3 linked regions of the Homo sapiens genome follow. The protein of the gene in region 2 interacts with the protein of the main gene of each other region in a pairwise test. Each region holds a gene or a part of one and is shown on either strand. Other genes may lie near its edges. The genes, in order: DSCAM, DLG2 and AOAH.

Region 1 (3,753 bases), on a different chromosome or scaffold from region 2:
GGGTGGAGAAGGAACATGGCTGCAGATAACAGGGCTGAAGGAGTTAACAGGAAGAATATTTCAGCATTCACAGGGGTGAAGAACATGGGCTTCAGGCTGACTGCAGGATCTGCATCCTCCTTTCAGCACTTGGGACTCACCGCTTAACTGCTCTGGACTTCAGTGTCCCACGTGTTCTGTGGGAGAGTCGTCACTGTTCCATAGGGTTGCAGAAATACTGTAAGCAAAGGGCTTAGGACAGGGCTTGGCATGGAGTGAGTGCTCTAGAGTGGACAGTCATCCTTACTAGTTGTAAAAGTAGAGGTAGTGCTCATGTGGGGGAATGAATTGTTGGAGGAATTTTTCAAACCAAAGAGAAGCCAGGTTACTGTCAGAATAGTGGGATGGCTGCAAGACTTGGAGCTGTTTCTCCTAGTGTCTGTGAACTGTGAGACCAGGAGTACATGAGGAGTGAGGCAGTTGAAGAAATCTCTACTCCCATTGATAATGTATCCCTTTCCCAGAGATTCGAGTGTCTTGCAAAAATAACAGCTTCAGCCTATGTCTTCACTCAAGGATTCAGGCATGTATGATCTGAGGGACAGATATTTGGCAACTTAAGTATTCCCTGCTGCTCAATATGGCTTTTAGAAGAGAATGAGCAGAAAACAGCAATACTTCACAGTGATAATGTCTGGTGTGGCCCAAATGACTCACTAATCAATACATCATGGTGCTTCTCCCAGGCTGGGTTACATTTCCTGGAATCAGAAAGAGCGAAAATGTTCCTTCTGAAGATTCTTCAGTTCTGAGAATGCTCGTTCTATTACCCACACAAAATGCAAGCATCAGTCCACTTCCCATAGAAAGCAAACACAGTGCTCATGTGAATCTTTCTCATTCTCTGCAGGATACATACTGCAGTACTCCGAGGACAATAGTGAGCAGTGGGGGAGTTTTCCAATCAGCCCCAGCGAACGTTCCTATCGCTTGGAAAATCTCAAATGTGGGACTTGGTATAAGTTCACACTGACAGCCCAAAATGGAGTGGGCCCAGGGCGCATAAGTGAAATCATAGAAGCAAAGACCTTAGGAAAAGGTAGGTATGCCTTCTCATCGCTTCTTAATATCCTTTCTTTTCCCGGCCAGAAGAGGAGATTGGAATCATAAAAGATCCATCATGTTTTACGTTTATGTGTTTGAACTTTGTCATTCCTCACATGGCTTCAGCAGTGCCACGGCATAATGAGAGGGACAGCTGGACCTTCCAGAGTGTTCTGGTCCTCTCTTTTATTGTTTCATTTGCAGTTAAAAAGAAGAATGTCAGTTTGAAAATCAAGGGCGTTGGTGTGAATGTGAGGTGCCAAGGCTGGGCAGCCATGAAGCGTGGCGCTTGCCCTCTCAGCCGTTTGGAGGCGCCCTTCTCCCTTAGCCACCCTTGCTCCCACCTTCCTATCATTTCCACATTGCCACATAGCCACCGCTTTTCAGAGGGAAAATGATGGGGTAAATTGCGTTTGTTTTTTTTTTAATCTAAAATGTGGACTTTCAAGGAGATGAATCCCAAAGAAATCATATTCAGAGAAAGAGGTTTTGTCCCAGGAACTCCAGAAGGAAGGAGGGATGATGCAGCTCTATGTGGGCATAGGAAGAAGGTGAGGAGATGTCTTTGCAGGCTTCCCTCCCATAGGAGTCCTACCAGGTGGGGTGGGGTCAGATGGCAGGAGAGCGAGTAATGAGATAGCAAGGGTATTATTTGTGCCTGGTGCCACAGTTTTGGGTAACAAGTGGTAAGAGGTCAAATGATCGGGGATTGATTTATGCAGAAATATATCCTTTAGGTCCCTGGGCACCAAGACCAAGTGTTTAGTTGTGGAGGAAAATCTGTTGGTGCTTCCCAAATCCAACTCTGTCTTCTCTTGAATCAGGTTCATCACATGAGGATGGAAAAAGTGCCCAGCACACTGCCCCGCAAACCACAGAAGGAAACCCATATGTGAACATCCTATTGTTCTTTAGGGAACTCTAAGATACCCCAAAATAACCTCCACCCATGCAATTTTCTGTCACACACCCAGGTCATTACAGTTGGAGAAAGCCTGTTGGTCCATAAAGTCTCTATTAACAGGGGACAAGTTGCCAGTGGCCTGTGAGCCAGACTTGGACTGAGCTCCTGGCCTCGCTGGAGGAAGCAGTCCGAGGGAAATGCGTGAAGATGCTGATGGCCTCCCCATGTGTCCTGTGAGCTGACCTCCATGTGCCTTCTCCCCCAGAGCCCCAGTTCTCAAAGGAGCAGGAGCTGTTTGCCAGCATCAACACCACACGCGTGAGGCTGAACCTCATTGGCTGGAATGATGGCGGCTGCCCCATCACCTCCTTCACACTAGAGTACAGGCCCTTTGGGACCACAGTTTGGACCACAGCTCAGAGGACCTCTCTCTCCAAGTCCTACATCCTGTATGACCTGCAGGAAGCCACCTGGTATGAGCTGCAGATGCGGGTGTGCAACAGTGCGGGCTGCGCGGAGAAGCAGGCCAACTTCGCTACGCTGAACTACGATGGCAGTAAGCTGGCTGGCTTTGTGGCTCTCCTGCTTGTGTCTTGGGGGATGTGCACGTGGGCCCTGCCCCTTTCCCATCGAACATCATCTTTGCCATAGTTTGACCAGTGCCCACGGAGCCCATTAGGCTTTCGGGATTCAATGGACTCTGTCTGGGGCTCCCTAGTTCGTTATATCCAGATGACCATCACTGTGTGTCCAGAAATAAGAGACTCAGGGCCATAGGGAGTCTCACTGGGGAGTCATGGGGCAGGAGTGATTTCTCTTAGGGCTGAAGGACTCTTGACCCTGTGGTTCTGTGCTTGTGTTGATGTCTATGAGCTAACATTGCTTTTGTTGTCTCCCACCCCTTTCCCCACCTCATCCCAATCCACATAACAACTTTCTTTTTTGCACTCATTACACCCTAAACTGCATGTGCAAAAACAATTTTCCATGGTAAAGGAGCTTATGTTAGTCTCTGGGCAGGAGCAGGGCCACTGATGGAAATAGGATAATAATAGGAATCCATGAACACGTGCACACACACAAACTCACACACACTTGCCACTTGCATTTACTTTCCAAAAACTAGGTGAGGTGTCTCTTGACATTAGTTAACCAAAAATAAATGGTTTAAAATCTCACTCATTTTTTCTGGTATCAAGGGCCATTTATTGCTAACTGAACAAATGCTAAGCCCAGTGAAGCTGAAAGGAGCGAGTCCTCGACTGCAACTTAGTAGGGGAACTTTAGAAAGTCCCAGCAGCAGCGGGCTGATGCTCATTTCTCACTAGGGGAACAGCAAGGATTGAGTTAGGTGCTCTAATTGCAAGGTAAAAACGGCAGCAATGCATCAGGATGAGTTGGAACTCCAGTGCAACTCTCCTCAGAGCCTTCTATTCACTGCCTGTTGGTCAGGCTAGACCACAGTGTTGAATGAGTTAACCAAGAAACACCCAAACCCTTTATTGACAGCCAAGCCAAGACCACGTTGGAAGTGCTCCTCTACCTGTGGGTGATGCTTTGTGAGGGGATGCCTTTCAATGAAGTCACTCATAACTGAGGGCTGTAAAATTAGACAGAGGCAGCCCATGAAAAGCATCAGCATTGCTCTCTAGGAGAGTGATTCTTTCTTTACTTTGTGCATTTGGGAGGCCGCTTTATTAAAGCTCCAGCAGGTAGCTCCTTGGAGCACAGTTTATGCCATCCTAAGAAGAGTGGCTGTGAACCTA
Region 2 (3,753 bases):
ACCAAAACTGCTTTTTTTTTCTTTTTAAATGTTTCCTTGGAAACATGAAGGGGAATAGAGGTTTTCTTCTGGAGAGCCTGAGTTCTGAGTTCTGTATTCCTATATACTTTCATAGAACACTGAGTAATCAGACTTTGTGAAATTTGCCTTACACCTGGTTCCCGGAGGTTTAAAAACAAGAACTTTCGAGCTGGGCTTATGCCTCTAATCCCAGCACTTTGGGAGGCTGAGGTGGGTGGATCACCTGAGGTCAGGAGTTCGAGACCAGCCTGGCCAACATAGTGAAACCCCCGTCTCTACTAAAAATACAAAAAATTAGCTGGGTGTGGTGGCAGGCACCTGTAATCCCAGCTACTAGGGAGGCTGAGACAGGAGAATCACTTGAACCCAGGAGGTGGAGGTCGCAGTGAGCCGAGATCGTGCTACTGCACTCCAGCCTGGGCAACAAGGGTGAAATTCTGTCTCAAAAAAAAAAAAAAAAAAAAAAAAAACCCAAGAACTTTCTTCCTGGATTACCATATGTGAAGTTAGATGTTTTATTTTTTACCTTATTCAGAATATAGAAAGTGTCAGTGCCTTAGCAGTTTGTAAATATCTTGAATCAGGTAATATTAAGTAATCTTTCTGTCAGTAACCAAGATACGAGCTGTGTTTCATCCTAAAAGAACATCCAGGTAGGAGAAACAAAAGTGTACATTTTGACAGTGGTTTATATTTTGTATACAATACAATAATATATTCTGAGGATTGTTTTTAAATATCTAAATCATCTTTCAGTAGTAATTTATTTTTAAGACCTAGTGTCATATGGATAATACTGATGTGTTTTGGAAATCTTTCTACAAGATAACTTTTGTTCAAATGAGACAATAAAATGTACTTAAATCTACTCCAAGTGACTTAGTGTTTTAGGAGATACACAACTGAGCAGTTTGTTTATATTTCTTCCTGTTTATGTTTCTTATAAATAGTGGACTTATGGTATTCTCAATATGAATAGCTCTGTATGGTAAAAATCTCAAGTTACCAGAGATTTGGGGAATTAATGGGTTTTCCTATTAAGGGCTTTGAGGGTTGGGAGGCTAACTAAACTTCCCTCTAAAATCTTCATTATTTCCTCGGTGTCTACAATATCTGAATTTCTGCTGCTGCCAAAATAAGTAAATATACAGACTGTAAGGCCAGTTTTCTTTTCTAAATAGGGAGCTCTCAGTCTGAAAATTGATCATTGCCCAGCTCAGTGCCTGGCTCAGAGTAGGCACCCATAAAATATTGGTTAAATAGATGAGTGATAAATTGTCCAGTACTACAGACAGACATGTAGAAAGTGCAAAGACTGTGAATCATTTGTTACTGATCCAGGATATCCATTGAAAGCATTTCTTAAAATCATGAATGTAACTTTGCTTATATGAATTTTCTGCTTCTTCTTACTAATGAAAAATGATATGAAGCTTCCTGATGAGTCATCTGCTACTGATTTGAGCCTCCAATGTGTAAGTGATGATTGTTCTTCACCATCCAGGAAATTATTTCTAATTCTGGGTGTGTTTGCTTTTGTTACAGCTATTGTCCAAGGAGATACTTTAGAAGATATATATAACCAATGCAAGCTTGTTATTGAAGAGCAATCTGGGCCTTTCATCTGGATTCCCTCAAAGGAAAAGTTATAAATTAGCTACTGCGCCTCTGACAACGACAGAAGAGCATTTAGAAGAACAAAATATATATAACATACTACTTGGAGGCTTTTATGTTTTTGTTGCATTTATGTTTTTGCAGTCAATGTGAATTCTTACGAATGTACAACACAAACTGTATGAAGCCATGAAGGAAACAGAGGGGCCAAAGGGTGGGACAGAAAAGACATTGCAGTATGAAGGAAGGCTTTGGTTTGCTCAAAGTGCCAGGTGTAGGGATGAACCTCTGACGGGCTTTCTGCCCAAGAGATGAGATGAGAGCCTCCTCACCCCAGCAGATGTCCAGAGCTGATTTAGCTGCAGAGCTCTCTGTGTCTTTTGCTTTAAAGAAAAATTGCCAGCACTCGAACCTCATCAGCCTTCCCATTACCCACATCTGTAATTGGTACACTTTGAATTTTATAACTATGCACATCTTTTGATTTCTTAACAAGCAAATGAAAGAAAGAAGGAAAAAAGAAAGGAATCCCTTTGGAGATGACATACTATCAGGGAAGGATAAGTGTGTAGTTTTTTGACTGGCATCTGCAAAGACAAGAATTTCATAAAATTTGCAAGTGTATGGAGGACTAACCTCACTGACAGGAGGGGATTCCACCTGGGATTAGCTTTATGATTGTTGATTGCCTATTTTGCCATTTATAAACTGAAAGAAGGCACTAAAGATGAGAATAATTTATACAATAAAAATATATTAAATGTATAGAAACAAATTTCTATAGGTTAAAAAAGTTTTGTGAAATATTTTGTAAAGACTAATATTGAAAGACTAAATGTATGCAACATCAGCAGATGATCAAATTCAAGACCTGAAAGTTGCACTCTCCCTTTTGTTGCCAATGATCTGTTAAGAGCATCTGAGTTCCTTTTAAGTCTGACAAAGACTTCTTCCTCACTTACCTCCCTTCCACATTAGTGATACACTCTCATGCAGCACATCCCTTAATGAGTTGCCCTCATGGATATTTTTGGAAGACATTTGGTTAATGCATTTTTTTATGCTGATGGCTTTTCAGAGACAAACTTATGCAAATGATCTAAAGGGAAGTTTTTGCTTTCCTCTAGTTAAATAACCTGAGCCTGCCATGCAAATAGTTGAATAACTTTGTTCCTAGTTACTGACATACAATTCTTAAAGGACCATTTAGCATTTTGGCCAACAATGAGTAATTAGGATTAGTACCTTTTTGTTTTACAGAGTAACTGAGAGTTTTGTAACATCCAGAGATGGTACTAGAGCCAATGAGAGATCTGTTCCTAGATGCACTATTTCTTTGAGGAAGAGAGAGAAGAGAAGTGTCTGGTTGGGGGTGAGGGGGTGCAGACTTTTTTGTTTCTATGTACAGAGCAAAGAGATAGAGTCACAAGGAAAGACAATTAATGACTTTGAGCTCAACCAACTGAACTGCCTTTCTTGGAGCTGCACCTGGACCAAGTTTATTTTTTAACAATTATAATAACGATGATTTAAAAAAAGAAACCTCCCAAAGCCTATAAACTGAACTAGAAGAGTTGGTTTCCCACTTTAGAGTGGATGGCGACATCAGCATTGCTTTTGCCCATGGTGTTTGGGGAGAGACTTTTCAGTGATAATAACCACTCTACTCTGGGTTCTGTGCATGCCCAGACTAAGCCCCATCGCCTTATTTCTGGGGTACATCCAGACCTGGCAGGGATTCTGCCACACTGTGCAGCAAACCAGCATGTAGGCTGGGTAGGAGAGCAAGAGATAGAGCCATCAGAGTGATGGGGCTTCTTCACAGTAAGAACATCGGAGCTTAGAATGAGAGTCTCTTTCCAAAAACAGGCATTGTTCATCTTACGCTAAACATCATTGTCTGCCTGGCTACAGTCACCAAAACAAAACAGAAATGCAAAATTATGCATCTTCCCATAGTCCTGAGGCTTCCTTTGCCAATGGAAGGGCTAGCAATGCATTCTCCCTCTCATGAAAGTTAAATTTCCAGAGACTTCCTTAGATTGCTCAAAATGTTAAAGATATGTCCATGTCTGCAATTCGCCAGTTTCAGGTCAAGGCCTACTTTCATCAATA
Region 3 (3,753 bases), on a different chromosome or scaffold from region 2:
CCTCTGGAAACAGGAAGGGGCTTGCTCAATACTGCACAGCTAAGTCAGCGACTCCCACTGTGACCAGCCCCGAAGCCTGAGCACACTAGAGAGTTTCAGAGCCGACCATCCCTGGGATGGTTGTGAATGGCACTGCCTGGCCCACATACATGCGATGAAGGGCACAAAACTTGCATTTCCGGCATACCAAGAAATCCCTCTCACTCTAAGAGTTTCCAGACCTGCTCGCAGCTATACATTGAGACCAGGAGAGCCTCAAGAGGCCCAAAGCCTGTGTCAAATGCTCTTCCAGAAGCCCTCAGGAGAGTCCTCACCCATTTATGGATTAGACAAACTAGACCACACACTCCTGGAGTGCTGTAGCACAGCTGGAAGGTATTCAATAAATCCTCCCTTTTCCTGTCCTCACCATTTCCCATGTATGACATGATGGCCTACAACTACCATGGGCGTCTTGGAATTCTCTTGAAGCTGGTCTGGGGTGCAGGTTTCATCACACTCCTGCTAGAGTCATAGACAGATGCACTAAGCACTTACTTCTTGCCAGCCATGCTGCTTTGTTGTTTGGATACATCATGTATTCGAGTGCTTCCAGCAGCGCATTGGAGCGGATATTACCATTATCCCAATAGAAATGAGCTACTTGGGAGGCTGAGGTGGGAAGATCACTTGAACCCAGGAGGTCAACACTGCAGTGAGCTGTGATCACACCACTGCACTCCAGCCTGGATGAAAAAGCAAGGCCCTGTCTCAAAAAACAAACAAACAACAACAACAACAACAAAAACAAGACACTGAAGGGGGGAAAGTTACATCACTGGTCTAATATATTACTCAGAATAAACAGTAGACATGAGACGTAAGCATGAGCCTTTCTGTCTTCACAATCTGAGTTCCTAATCAATCAGTCCTTTATTTAGCCTCCCTTGGAAGTCTCTGGAACTTCTCTAGGCCTCACCCCTGTGGTGGTCCTAGTGACCCCAGAGCTCCCCTTAGTCACAGAGTGAAGAACTGAAGCAGCAGCACCTTAGAGTCAGAGGAAGTCACAGGCCCATGGACGCCTAACGATATCCTCAGTATTGGGCTGGAAGTGTAATTAGGGAAACACTCTGACTTGTGCTATCTCTGCAGCAGGTTTGGGAATTGTAGCCCCATCGGTGCTTGTAAGACTAATGACTGCACAAGAAATCTTCCAACCATAAAAACTGGTATTTCCTACATCCTGGAAAGGATGCTACTCTAAAACTTTGCCTGCTACTCCAAATGCTATTTTTTTTAATTGCTAACAATTTAGATAGCTTCTATAATATTTCAAAATTTGTAATAAGCTCCCTCAGAGCCTAAGCAGAGAGAAACAGAATCTCATGACCTCCTACACTTACCTAGACTGTGGTACTTTGGCCCTGTCCTCTTATCTTGACTGAGAATGGCATATGATTTTGTTTTATCTTATTTTAGAGAGAAACATTTAGATTATATGTCTTTTATCTATGATCTGGTTCCGATTTTTTTTTTCCCTCAGAAAGACAGTGTTCAGTTCTATTCTTCAGAGCAGAAAATCAGTCTCTTAACAAATCATCCACAAAATGCACTTCGAAATTCTGGAGAAAAAAAAGATGCATTGTGCACAGCCTAGCAACTGTGAATTGATTAATTCTAACCCATGTTTTTTCTCATTAGGTCTAAAATCCCACCATGCTAACTGCCCATTATTTTCTGTACTGTTTATTTTCTGCACACCAAATAAAAGGCCTTGACCCTTCAAGGAATAACCCAATTTCTCCAGAGGAAAGATATTATTTGACCAGAATATCCTTTTACAACAAAATAAGGATCACAACCTTACCATATAAAGCTGTTGAAAACAAGACTAAGTAAGTTCTGAATGTAACCAATTAGAATTTCTACAATATGTGGGTGCTGCTGATCAAATTGTTAAAGGGTTGTGTGCTTGTGGATTAGTTTTTTTTTTCTTTTTTCTTCTCAGTTTTGGCTTTAGTATCGTTTTGTTTTGTTTTGCAAGAATGAAAGGGGAAGGGCCTCCTAACCAACCCAACAGATCAGTTCCGGCAAGCCTCGAGGCTCACGGGGTTTATGCACACTAACTTCACTGAGCCAGGGAGCACGGAAGTTGTGCCACTGTGCAACTTGGGTTTTCTTTATCCTGCAGTCTTTACCTCAGCAGAACCGCACACCACAGACTCCCTCCAGCTCTTTGTGTGTGGCTCTCTCAGGGTCCAACAAGAGCAAGCTGTGGGTCTGTGAGTGTTTATGTGTGCTTTTATTCACTTCACACTTATTGAAAAGTGTGTATGTGAGAGGGTGGGGTGTGTGTGTCAAAGAGAGTGAGGAAGAGAAGGAGAGAGAGATCAATTGATTCTGCAGCCTCAGCTCCAGCATCCCTCAGTTGGGAGCTTCCAAAGCCGGGTGATCACTTGGGGTGCATAGCTCGGAGATGCAGTCCCCCTGGAAAATCCTTACGGTGGCGCCTCTATTCTTGCTCCTGTCTCTTCAGTCCTCGGCCTCTCCAGCCAACGATGACCAGTCCAGGCCCAGCCTCTCGAATGGGCACACCTGTGTAGGTATGCAAATAAATATTTTTGTATTTTCTATGTAGACATAACAATGGGATCCAGTACTTTGCTTGCGTAATAAATCACATATTTTATTAAATCAAGAATTGTAAGATTCCAGGTAAGGCACCAGTAACCTCACTGACACAGAGAAATGTGGAGTCTAAGAGTAGACATTGACACTACATACATCTATGTGAATAAAAAGCATACTAGTTTAAATTGGGCATAAAACTCTTCCACCTCATTGGCGATTGGAATTTTTTCTTCTTGTATAGGTAACTATTATTTCAGGCTATTTTAGTCTGAAATTTTTACTGCTTTTCATGGGCTTTGACCTCATATAAACACATCTGAGTTTGAATCACTGCCCTCCTCCTACCCTTCTCTCCCATTTCCTACTGGCTGTGGAAACCTGGAGCAATGTACTTAACCCTCTCCATGCTTCTGTGTCCTTATTGGTGAACTGAAGTGAGTGAGACCCATCTCATAGGGATACCATGGAAATTGTGACCATGCATGTAAATCTGTGGCATGTGCACACAGTAAGGACTCAACCATCTTAGCTTCCTTCCGTCTCTCAGAGAATCCAGATTTGGCGATCACCTGGAGACGCTGAGCGTTGATATGGCTTCTTGGCTCATCTGTTAATGAAGTGTTTTATTTCCAAGAGGTTTTTTTTGTTTGTTTTTTTTGGATGAGAGCAGGAAGTAAGGTAAGATCTTTGATATTCACATTGTAGCTCTCATAACATGGGAATTCTCATAATAGTGGTGGCATTTAGATGGTACAGTCCATGGAGCCACATAGACTCAGAACTCTGAGTAGTAAGTAATTGTTCAATGAGCAGACCTCAAAATACAATCCTAGCTTGAGAAGCCAGGAAAATAACTCTAGGATAAGTCTGATGGCTACATGCTGCAAATGGAAAATCTGGACACAGATTCTGACACTTAGGAATTGTTTCTGGAGACAATATGGAAATATATCTGAATTTGTCCTACTTCCTCAAAATCATGGCCTCAGGTCATTGTACATGTTAGGAGATGCATCTCTACTTCCAAAGTCCTTTTTTTTTTTTTTTTTTTTTTTTTTCTGAGATGGATTATCGCACTGTCACCTGGGCTGGAGTACAATGGTGCAGTCTCAGCTCACTGCAACCTCTGCCTCCCTGGTTCAC

Evidence for each region.
Region 1: the proteins of DLG2 (region 2) and DSCAM interact in binary tests that used the Homo sapiens proteins (3 or more experiments, as listed by UniProt).
Region 3: the proteins of DLG2 (region 2) and AOAH interact in binary tests that used the Homo sapiens proteins (3 or more experiments, as listed by UniProt).

What each region holds. Positions count from the first base shown.
Region 1 is NC_000021.9:40,077,477-40,081,229, reverse strand, and holds part of DSCAM (cell adhesion molecule DSCAM isoform CHD2-42 precursor), read left to right. Parts: intron 1-889; coding exon 890-1,078; intron 1,079-2,252; coding exon 2,253-2,543; intron 2,544-3,753. UniProt on the Homo sapiens protein: Cell adhesion molecule that plays a role in neuronal self-avoidance. Promotes repulsion between specific neuronal processes of either the same cell or the same subtype of cells.
Region 2 is NC_000011.10:83,457,738-83,461,490, reverse strand, and holds part of DLG2 (disks large homolog 2), read left to right. Parts: intron 1-1,566; coding exon 1,567-1,673; 3' UTR 1,674-3,753. UniProt on the Homo sapiens protein: Required for perception of chronic pain through NMDA receptor signaling. Regulates surface expression of NMDA receptors in dorsal horn neurons of the spinal cord.
Region 3 is NC_000007.14:36,722,851-36,726,603, reverse strand, and holds the start of AOAH (acyloxyacyl hydrolase isoform 1 preproprotein), read left to right. Parts: upstream 1-2,109; 5' UTR 2,110-2,455; coding exon 2,456-2,582; intron 2,583-3,753.